Linked DNA regions of Homo sapiens: region 2 is linked to region 1. The links come from fine-mapping of genetic effects on gene expression. A gene starts in region 1. The other region holds a variant in brackets. All regions are shown on one strand. Distances are between the middles of the regions. Region 1 holds the start of ADRA1A (adrenoceptor alpha 1A). Region 2 has its middle 170 kb from the start of ADRA1A.

Evidence for each region.
Region 2: its variant is fine-mapped to the expression of ADRA1A in stomach (GTEx, PIP above 0.99). The same link has a PIP of 0.9 or more in ileum, lung and transverse colon.

The regions. Positions count from the first base shown.
Region 1 is chr8:26,864,866-26,870,244 of GRCh38, forward strand. ADRA1A (adrenoceptor alpha 1A) reads right to left here and starts at 2,413. Exons shown (of 3, transcript NM_000680.4): 1 at 2,071-2,413; 2 at 1-790. The coding sequence starts at 104. RefSeq lists an enhancer at 683-1,634.
Region 2 is chr8:26,691,099-26,696,477 of GRCh38, forward strand. No RefSeq gene overlaps it. Among named protein-coding and RNA genes, the nearest start is that of ADRA1A, 170 kb to the right of the region's middle. The variant A/C (reference allele first, on the strand shown) is at 2,801.

The sequences.
Region 1 (5,379 bases):
CCCCCCAAGATCACCCCGAGCAGAATGGCCTTGGAAATGTTCACCGGTGCCGGCGGTTGGGTGCAGTTGGAGCTGTCGGAAGCATTTCCCGAGAGAAACACCATGGTCCCAGCCGGGGCCGGGCGAGGTCCGGCTGTCCAGGGCCACCTCCCGGGCTGGCGCGGAGGCGGGAGCGCGGGAGCCGGGAATCAAAAGGTCTCGGCTGGAGGGAGCCCTGCCAGGTGGGTTTGGCTGGGGGTGAGAGCGCGCGCGCGGGTGGGAAACAACCCTGGCCAGCCCTGGGAACCCTCAGAAGGCCACATGAAGGGGCAGGGCATTAAAGACATGGCCAGGGGCGCGCGGGGCTGCCGGGGACCCTCTCCACCTGCCGGGCTGGCCTAGCCCGGGACCCGGACTCCCTCCCTACCCGAAGCTGGGTGCGAAGATCCAGGAGACTCCTTGCAACATGCAATTCCAGAATTACGAGAATCTGCTTTTCCGCGCTGTCTTATTCGTCCTGGCTGGGGGAAGATTCAGCATTCTGCACATGATTCGGAATTCAAAACTCCAGCGCCAGTCTCTCCCTCAAACCAAAAGATCAGCCGTCGACGCTCAAAGGCAGGGACCGATGGTTGGGTAGCGCAGCGCTACAGGTTGGGCGCTGCTCCTGGCCCGCAGTTACCTACATTTTGAGCTGCCCCACCGAAGGCTCCTGCTCTCTCCAGCTTCTAGGAGCACAGGTCAGGGGACGTAGGTGTGGAATATGTGCTGAGACCCAGGAGGCTGCGGGGCATCGTTTGACCGCGTCCACCTGAAAGAGCGCAAAGAGAAAGGCGGCTTTGAGCTAGGCGCCCCAGGGAAAGAGGCTGTGCTGAGCTTGACGGGTTGGGGGACACCAGTTGGGAGCCGGGTTGGTTCTGCGGTCCAGAAGCTGCTTCGCCCGGCAGCGGTGGAGGCGACTTCGGAGCTCATCTCGCGCCCCCACCACTGGGAACCTGCCTAGCGCACTCTACTGAGTCACCTCTGCCCGAGTTCAGGATCCGAAGCGAAAAACAAACAAAAAAACAAATCCCCAAAACCCCAGGCTCCAGCGCTCGAAGTCTGGATTTCGAGCGCAGGTACCACGAAATTAAAATCCTCGAAGCCCCGGAGGGGCGACTGCGGCTGGCGAGTGTGTCGCACGGATCCTAGCCGGGGAATTCTGGAGGATGTACTCGGTTTCCGTTAGAACAGGTTGCCTCGCAGTCACCTGGAGGGGGCGGCCTGGGAGAGGGAACAGCTGCGACCCAGGGACCTCAGGGCCAGGACCACGAGCACGCTCACTCTCACGCCGGTGGAATTCGCACTCGGGTGTGCAGAGCGCACCGGTCTGTCCACCAGCCAAGCTGGCTTGAGAGCCAGGTCCCGAGCGAAGCCGGGAGGGACCCGAAGACAGAAAGCGACCCAGGTCTGTCCACGACGCCTTTCCAAGCCTCACTGTTGGCCACCCGAGGGGCTCCAGCTGCCAGCCGTAGCGGGACTGGCGGGGGACGGGGTGGGGAGGACGTCCCTCTGCAGAGGGAGCTTTGCAAGTGACAGTCACTGCGGATTTTGCAGGCGTAAACATTAAGCCGGCATGCCAGCGGGCAGGGGCCGCCTTCGATTTTCTGGGCTGGGGGCCACCATCTGCGTAAGAAACCTGGGTTTCCACAACTGCGAACCTACCGCAGGGACTCGGCAGGACAGCGCGGCGTGAGGAAGTGCCCACCTTGCCTTCTGGGGTTGGGCCCTGAGGTGGGACCTCGGGCAAAGACTCTTGTTAAAATCGCAAGTTGGAGACCTCACAGGTGGTATTAAAAACGTGCCACTGCAGAAACCCTTTTCCTCCTACCTCGAGGGTGATAAACACAGGGTTAAAAAGACACTTGTTCAGTAGAAGGCAACTTCGCAGAAGATGTAAGGGAATCGGGGGTGGGGTAGAGGGGCCGGTATAAAACCTGGTGGAAAAAGCGGGAGGCGCTGGGAAAAGTGGGGGTTCCGTCTCACCAGACGGCGGGGGAGGTCTGCCCTCACCCACTCGGCCCTGCGGGACGCCGGCCCCGGCGCACTCACCTGAAGCGCCGCTGCTGAGCCACCAGCTCGCGCGCGGGGGATGTGGACCCGGCTTCGGTCCCGGGAGCTGCCTGCCTGCTCTTCTCTGGAGGCGGAGAGGGGACCGTGTCTCCGAGGCACCAAATCCTTGTCCTTTTGCACCCGCTGACTCACCCCTCCACCACTGATGTCTTTAAGCTCCTGAACCGCTGTCACTTTACCTGCATTTTTTAAAAAGAGTCAAAATAAGAAAAGAAAAAAAAATGCAGATAACCGGTAACTCCACAATCACCCTTTTAATATTCAGCTCCCCGACACCAGAAAAGAATAGCAAGGAACTTTGCAGCTCTCGCTGACGTAACTCAGGCAGTAGCCCAGCTAGTACCGTAATCTCCTGCTGCTACCGTATTACTCTACGGCAACAGGCACAAGTGCGTATACAGCTGTAATGTTTTCCTCTGGCCTAGAGGGGGTTGGGTTCTAGCGTTTCTTTAAAAAGGTTTGTGTGTGTGTGTGTGTGTGTGTGCGCGCGCGCGCGCGCGTGTGTGTGTGTAGAGTCATTTGTAGTAAATAACTTCTTTAAATGAGCTTTTAAAAATAACGAAAAATTGACACCCTTGCTAGATATTGCTGTGTGTATGGTGTGTTCATAGGAATGTGCTATAAAGTAACTTTGAACAGCTTGATTTGATTAACATTTGGCCTAGGTTTTGTTAAGATCAAGAAGTATATTAAGAATATTGTAATTCTAAATATGCAAGTAAATTATAAGGTGTTTTAAATAGCAAGTAAAATCAGATAAAATATGACAAATCTGATTGTAATGAAATTATATTTTCAGGAAGATAAAGTGGACATATCTAAACCTTATTTAATATGATTCACTTCTAATTTCTTTAGACAGATGAATTTTAAGAGCATTATGGCCACAGAGTTTGGTATTTTTTAAATGCCACACAATCTTTTCCAGTTTTCTTGAGAAAATGGTATCCTTTCAGGAGTGTTACTCTCTTTAATTCATTAATAGCTGGAGTATGAAAACCTAGCACCACCAGTCTTATTACTTTTTTTCTGGTAAATTACATAATCTGTTTACCTTGTGATTGAATAAAGTCACATGTGTTTCAGAATATCGGGAACATAGAAAAATGTTTCCCACTCCAATTCCCACCTCCTAAGTCATCTTTCATCTTTATTGATGCAGACAAAGTGGAATGTTCTTATTTACTAGGTCTCCTTAAACCTAGGAACAAGGAGATAACTTTAAGCAGTGGCACTTAAATTCTCTCCTGTGAACAAAATCATATTAATATGATTACCTTTTCTAAGTGAGATAATGTTTGGGAGGCTCTTTTATAGCAATAAATCTCAAAATGCCTCAGAGGAATGCCCATGAGAGGGTCAGTAAATCCTATGTCATGGAAGACCTAATATATGTATTTATTTCTCTATTGTATACAAAGTCCTCCACCTCTGCCTCATACCTGTAGGGATAGAACTCACACCTAACACATTTGATTTGAATTTAATATATTTTTAAAACTGAATTTCGTGCCATAGGAGGAGCATCCTGGTTGAACAGACAGCTCCACTTCTCATTACTAAGTCACCTGCTCTCTCTGGGATTCAGTCCCCTTAGGAGGAAGCTTGACCTCAATTCCCTGCACTTCTAGTACTTTATCATCAAATATGTGTATAATGTCTGTGCTTCCGAAATCCCATCCATCAGAGGGATATACACTGTTTTGTTTTGTATTCATTAACCTGATGCTGTGAATGCAAATTCTTCATTAAGATGTGTTCCATGGTAGATAAGGGAAGCAGTGCTATCAGCAAGCAAAGCAACTGAAAATTGCTCAGCTCTGCAAGGTCGAAAATTGCAAAAGTCTTTGTAACTCCCAGTCCCCACTCTACAACAATTAAGAATACACATAATCCACCCCTGCACCCACCTCCAATAATTAACTAGTTAATACTAAGATAAGGAAGAGCAGCTCTTCATGCTGCTAGCAGGTAGGTCTTTCAAATCTGCTTCTCAGCCTGTGACCATCAATCCTTGCAAAACGACCTCTCAGAACCAATTTTTCAGTCACCTACCATTGATTCACAAACAGAAAACTATCCATCTGTTGGTTACTCTTTAAAGAATAGTTGACGTGGACATCCCAGAAAGTGTCTGAGTTGTACACATGGGTAGGTGGAGTGGAGAGGAGTATGCTCTGGGGTCATAAAGATGCTATTCTGACCCTCCTATGCGACCATGGCAAAGCCTTGGTTTCCTAATTTTTAAAGGGAGACAATGAACCCCCACAAGGTTGTTATTAGTGTTGAAAGAAATTACGTTTCTCAAAAACTCAGCTCATAATATTCACTAACTCTATTATTAATCTTATTAACTCCCTTTCTGCTCATTTTGTATGCTACTTTATAGTGAAATATATTTCTAACCCAGGTAGTCCATGAACACTGGTAAATTCAGCTGGAGAATGTGCTAAGTGTCTTGAGCACTACACTTGAGCTAAGTGGTTTAATCAGAATGACCCAACATGGTTAAGTTGCAAGAGCTGGCCCTGATCACTGGCTGCTTCTTTTCTTCTCACTTTCCCCCTTGTTCTTTGTCTTGAGGGGCCATGCAAATGTGTGTGAACACCTCAGCCCCTACAGCCAGAAAGCTGCCTTCTTGGCCTCAGGCCTTGGGGTACACACATTTGTGATGTTGTCTGCCCAGAGAGAATGGACCTGAAAGTGATTGTGTGGCCATCTGGGGCAAGGGATTCTGAGTCCCAGGGCATGGTCTAGAAAGGAGGGCACAGGCTCCAGGTGGGCATATCACATTAGTCCTATGGCCAAAAGGAGTCAGAGCTGGACTCTCTAAAGCCTGAAACCCTAGCCGGGGTCCCTCTTGCCTGGCTCTGAGGGTGATACTCTGAAGACTTCCGGTGTGACAGAAATTGAAGAATCCCCTGAAGGGGTGGTTGTGGAAAGACTCATAAAATGATATTGCTTGATGTAGGATTTGTGGAATCAGCAGGATTGAGATTTGTAGACAAAAGTGAGGAAGGTGAACCATCAGCAGCCGCATTTTAGAGTGGTGTGTCAGGGATGCTGGGGGAATGAGTCTGATTGGAGAAGAGCTGAGCAATGGACATAAACCCATGCATTGATTGGCAGGACTTTCTTAGTGACTAGTGAGGAACTCGGCAAGTGTGGTAGGCTTAGAGGTTTAAAAAAATAAAGAATCTGTCTATCATTCCCTTAGAAAACAATACACAATGGAATTAGGAGCTGTGTTCTGGAATTTATGATTGCAAATGACAGAGTAGAAGACTT
Region 2 (5,379 bases), 170 kb before region 1:
CTCACTAGAGTGTTTTGTTTGTGCCTTTTCTCAAGAGGAGAAAACTGGGCAGGGAAGGGGACCCAACTCTGACCCTCAGTGACGATTGTGTCCTATGTCCAGATGTCCTTCTGTGCTGCCTAAACGGATGTCTTATAGGCAGGCGCACACTCGGCTGGGGTGATGGGGGCCCAGGAGGCAGGTCAGGCAGGGATCTCCCAGCATAAGGAAAATGTCAAGACATATTTGGGGCTAAGAGTGTGCCCCTTGATGAACACCCCCAGTTGTTAATAAATCAACCCTCCACGCCTGTGCAGTGCCTCAGGTGGGGAAGGAATTTCCCATGATAAGCCAAAAAGGGTGGGATTTGGAAGGGCTGCCTTACTGTGTTGGAGACTGTTGAAGGAAGCCGCGGAGTAGCTATTGTTGGCCTCGCTCTCTCCCTGTCTCTCTCTCTCTCTCTCTCTCTCTCTCTCTCTCTCTCTCTCTGTGTGTGTGTGTGTGTGTGTATGTGTGTGACTTTATTGTATCACCAGGCAGGAGGCAGTCTGTGAAAAATCTGCTCCAACAATAGTAAAGGAACGTGAAGGAGCTGAAAGAGTAGAATTTGCAATGCTGCAAGCATACAAATCAAAATAAAATAAGGATAGTTCAACAAATATACCTTTTCTGATAATTGTTTATAGCACTGACCATTAATTTATAGGTCTGAAGATATATTATCCAGAGAAAATGAACATTAAGGCAGCTTGGAGAGACTTTAAAATCCCAGTGCATACTTTCTTTCTTTCTTTTTTTGCTTTTTGTTTTTGAGACAGAGTTTCACTCTGTCGCCCAGGCTGGAGCGCAGTGGCGCCATCTCAGCTCACTGAAACCTCTGCTTCCCAGTTTCAAGTGATTCTCCTTCTTCAGCCTCCTGAGTAGCTGGGATTACAGGCACGCACCTCTATGCCCAGCTAATTTTTGTATTTTTAGTAGAGACGGGGTTTCACTATATTGGCCAGGCTGGCCTTGAATTCCCGACCTCAGGTGATCTGCCTGCCTCGGCATCCCAAAATGGCGGGATGACAGGCATGATCCACCATGCCCAGCCTCAGTGCATACTTTCAAAAGTTGTAGGGATTGAAAGGGAGTTTAAAACACACGTTCTCCAATCTCTTTTTGATGCCTGAGTTGTCTCTGTGACAACACCCTCCCATAGATTCTCTGGCCTATGCCTGAGATCTTCGCGGTGCCCACCTGTCATACCTACAAGGCATTTCCTTCCATTTTGGGTAACTCCAAACCCTAGAAAATAAAGTCACCTTTCATTTGTATCCACTAGTCTTAGATTTTAAAATAATCATCACTAGTATACACTGAATACCGGGAGCTGGTTCAGGTGTGTTTTATTTAATCCCCTATATATTTACCCCCGTAGGTGCATGAGTCAGCTCTGGTTGCCATCCCAAGCTACTATAGACTGGGAGCTTCGACAACAAAGAGTGTATTTTCCCACAGTTCTGGAGGCTGGGAAGTCTGAGATCAATGTTCTGGCTGATTCTATTTCTGAAGGCTTGAAGGGCAATAATCCTATCAGATCAGGCCTCCTCTACCCCAGCCCTCACTTAATCTCATTTAACCTTAATTACTTCCCTAGATGCCCCTTCTCCAAATACAGCCAGACTGGGAGTTAGGGCTTTTTTTCGGGAAGTGCCTGTAAGGGATTGATTTGCCCTCTCATGCAATGAGTGCTGTGGTTAGGACTGAAACCCTATCTGCCTGATTTCCCTGTATGCCAACTGTCCTGTGGTCCTTATTCTTGGAAATAACCTTGGACTTGAGACGACCTGGGGCCAAGTCCTTGCAGTGGGTGCTTTTGTCCAGCCCAGTTCAGCAGGACAGGAGACCCGATGGGGATTTGGGGACACAGCCTTATCTAGAAACAAAGTATGCGTTCTTTTTTTTTTTTTTTTTTTTCTGGAGTGGGGTTGTAGCAGGAGGGGCTGTGGCCAAAGTAATCAGGGACTCAGAATATGAGTTTGCTCAGACTGCTATAATAAAGTACCACAGACTGGGTGGCTTAAACAACAGACATTTGTTTTGTCACAGTTCTGGAGGCTGGAAGTCTGAGATCAAGGTGCCAGCAGGGCTGGTTTCTCCTGAGGCCTCTCTCTTTGCTTTACAGATGGCCACCATCTCCCCGTGTCCTCACGAGGTCATCCTTCTGTGCATGTCTGTGTCTTAATCGCTCCTTTTAAGGACGTCTGCCATATTGGATTAGGTTCCATCTGAATAACCCTATTTTAACCTAATTATATATCTAAAGACTTGATCTTCAAATAGAATCACATTCTGAAGTACTGGGGGTTAGGACTTCAACATATGAATTTTTTGGTGAGGGGAGTGGAGGGGTCACAATTTAGCCTATAACACTTAGGGAGCTGCATTTTCACAGTCTTGGCCAACAGAGGACACCAATGCTTGTATCCCCGCTCCTAGGAAGGGGCAGGTGAGATCTGTCTCCCTTGCAGAATGCTCCTGGACGCACAGCCTGTTCCGCCTGGGTATCCCTGTTTGCTTGTGTATCCCATCTACTTCCATACGGCAGGGAAAGAAAAACAACTTTTAATACAATAAAAGGTTGTGCTCTCTTTGAACCGTGGGGTTGTTTTTCTGTTACCAGAAAACACTTTTTCTTTCTATCCATTAGATAGCATCTTCTCTGTGTGCTATTTACCTTTTCTTCTAGCCCTTGCCTTCTCTCTCCTCCCATCTGGCAATTACCAGTGAAGTTACATAAATTGGTCTCCTTACCCATCATTATACACAGGAGTCGTAC[A/C]CAGCCTGCCCTGGGTACATGCTGTCCTCTGAAAAGGAAGTGGACTTACAAAACTGCATCACTACAGGACTTTAGAAATATTTGAAGAGAGATAAACAAGCAGCCATGAACTTGCCACACCAAAACAGATGTCCTCATTTTGCATATCGCTGGCTGTTTCTTAGTTGCATGCTTATAAATAAATTTTGCTTCAATATCTGTGAGGATCCAGTCAGGGAAACAGAAGCTAAACTAGTTGTTTTAACAGAGAAAATTTAATACAGGGAATTGCCCTAACAGGGGCTGGAGAATTGAAACAGCAGAAAGCCATGAAGGGAAGAGGTGAGATGATCGAAACACAGAGCTTGGTGGAGGGTCTCTGTGCAGCTGGGGCTCAGATCTTTGAGAAGGGGGTCCTGCCCAGCAGCTGCTGGTGTCTCTGAGGTGGCACATGAGGCTGGCTCTGGAAGTCTGGAAAGAAGGTAGACGCTGTAGTAACTGCTGCCACCGCAATGGAGTGCCATGTTTTCTTCTGATGCTACGTTCTAGGAATTTTATAGTTTTGCATTTATATTTGGGTCTATAATCCACTTTGAGTTAATTTTTGTGAAAGATATAAGGTCTGTGCCTTTTTTCTGTAGCATAAAAAAAAAACATGGCACTCCATTGCGGTGGCACTCCATTAAACATGCATTTAATATACATAACCTACTGAACATCACAGCTCAGCCTAGCCTGCCTTAAACACGCTCAGAACACTTACATTAGCCTGCAGCTGGGCAAAACCATCTAACACAAAGCCTACTTTATAATAAAGTGTAACTTTCTTTTTAACTTTATTTTTTTCATGTAACTTACTGAATACTGTGGTAAAAGTGAAAAACAGAAGGGTTATATGGGCACTTGGAATACAGTTTCTACTGAATACCTGTCACTTGTGCACCATCATAAAGTCGAAAAATCCTAAGTCAAACCGTCATAAGTCAGAGGTCGTGTGTACAGAGCAAGAACTGGGTTGCTGGGAAGGGGGTCAGCTCATATCCACCTAGTTATTAAGAGCCTCCACTGCAGTGGATGTCCTAGAGTGAGCATTCATACGGGGCATGCATATCTCCACTACCTCTGCTTATTCTCAGAGATCCAGCCACAGATGCCCTTGTCATTAATTTTCCAATCTTGTTCTCTCCAAGTCCCTAACAAACTGCCAAACCACTAGCCACTCCCCATGAGTCAGTGTAACTGTACCTTTGGCTACCTCTTCTAAGAGGACAACAGATGTACTGATTGAAGTTCCTCCTTCTGTCTTTTGGGGCACTCCTGATTGGGCTACAATAAGCAGCAGTCCAGTTCCCATATTGCGCAGAGCTAGATGTAAGAAAGGTCAGAGCCTTCCTCCCTCCTCAATCAATGAGTCGGAAGGAATTCCTCATGAGGTTGTAGGAGTGGACTGAGGGAGAAGATGCAAGAACAGAAGCAGCTGTCAGGGAGTCCGAGATAGATGCTCATGCAGGTCACCTGTGCTTTCTGCACCTGCTTGAGCTTCATTCATTAGCCATTTCTACCTGGAAGTGTCCAGCTCTGGTCCTGTACATCCCCTGCTTTATGAGTCACTGTGTCAGACAGCACCCCATTTGTGATGAGACGCTCAGGCCACATAACCATATGATGTCCCATGGTCAGGTATTCAGTCCCTATCAGGTGTGTTGCAAGGCAGGAGCCACTTCTCAAAAGGAGAATAATTACCTGAAGAAGAGGGCAAGGCTTTGCTCCTAAACCTTAGATCCCTGCATGACAATTGCCCTGCTGCAGCTGTCAGAGGCTTCACGCTGCATTGCTAGTTTCCATAGAAACTTCAAGCATTGTGGATATTCTGGGTCATAAGGCCCAAGTGACAGTGCGGTTTTCTCTGAAGGCTGAACCTGCTGCAGACACCTTCTCGCCTCTGGTCCCTGTTCAATACTGGAAGCCTAATGGGTAAACGGGTCAAAATAGCACATTTAATGTGATATGTTTCCTCCAAAATTAAAAAAGGAGACCCACCAGGTAGCAGCAACTTGTTTTCAGTGATAAGAGGAGAAAGGTACAACAATTTTCACTTTGAATAGGATACCCCAATATGCTCTGTTTGGACTCAGGACTCATCTCCCATCCTCCAGCCTGCATGTGTCTTCTTCCTATGGTATCTAAGGAAGTCACTATTTCCTGTGCATCAGGTCTCATCTGCATAACACTGCCAATATAGTGGACCAGTATGATTTTTGTAGGATGTAAAGACTGTTAAGATCTCTACTCTGAGGCAAAAAAAAAAAAAAAAAAAAAACCCAAAAACTTGAAAGTGTACTGTTGATTCTGCCAGTTAAAACAAATGGCTTCTGATGCTCCTTGGAAATGGGTGGAAAGAGAACTAAGCACCTGGCACATTGGGTGCTACACACCAGATGCAATGAGTTGTGCTGATTTGCTCCAGGAAAGTGTTGGCATCTGGAGCAGCAGCTGCAAGAGAAGGCAGCATCTGCTTAGGTTTACAATAATCCATGTTCTCCAAGATCCATCTGCTCCTGACAGACTCAACAGATCTGTAAAATGAGCAAAGTGATAAG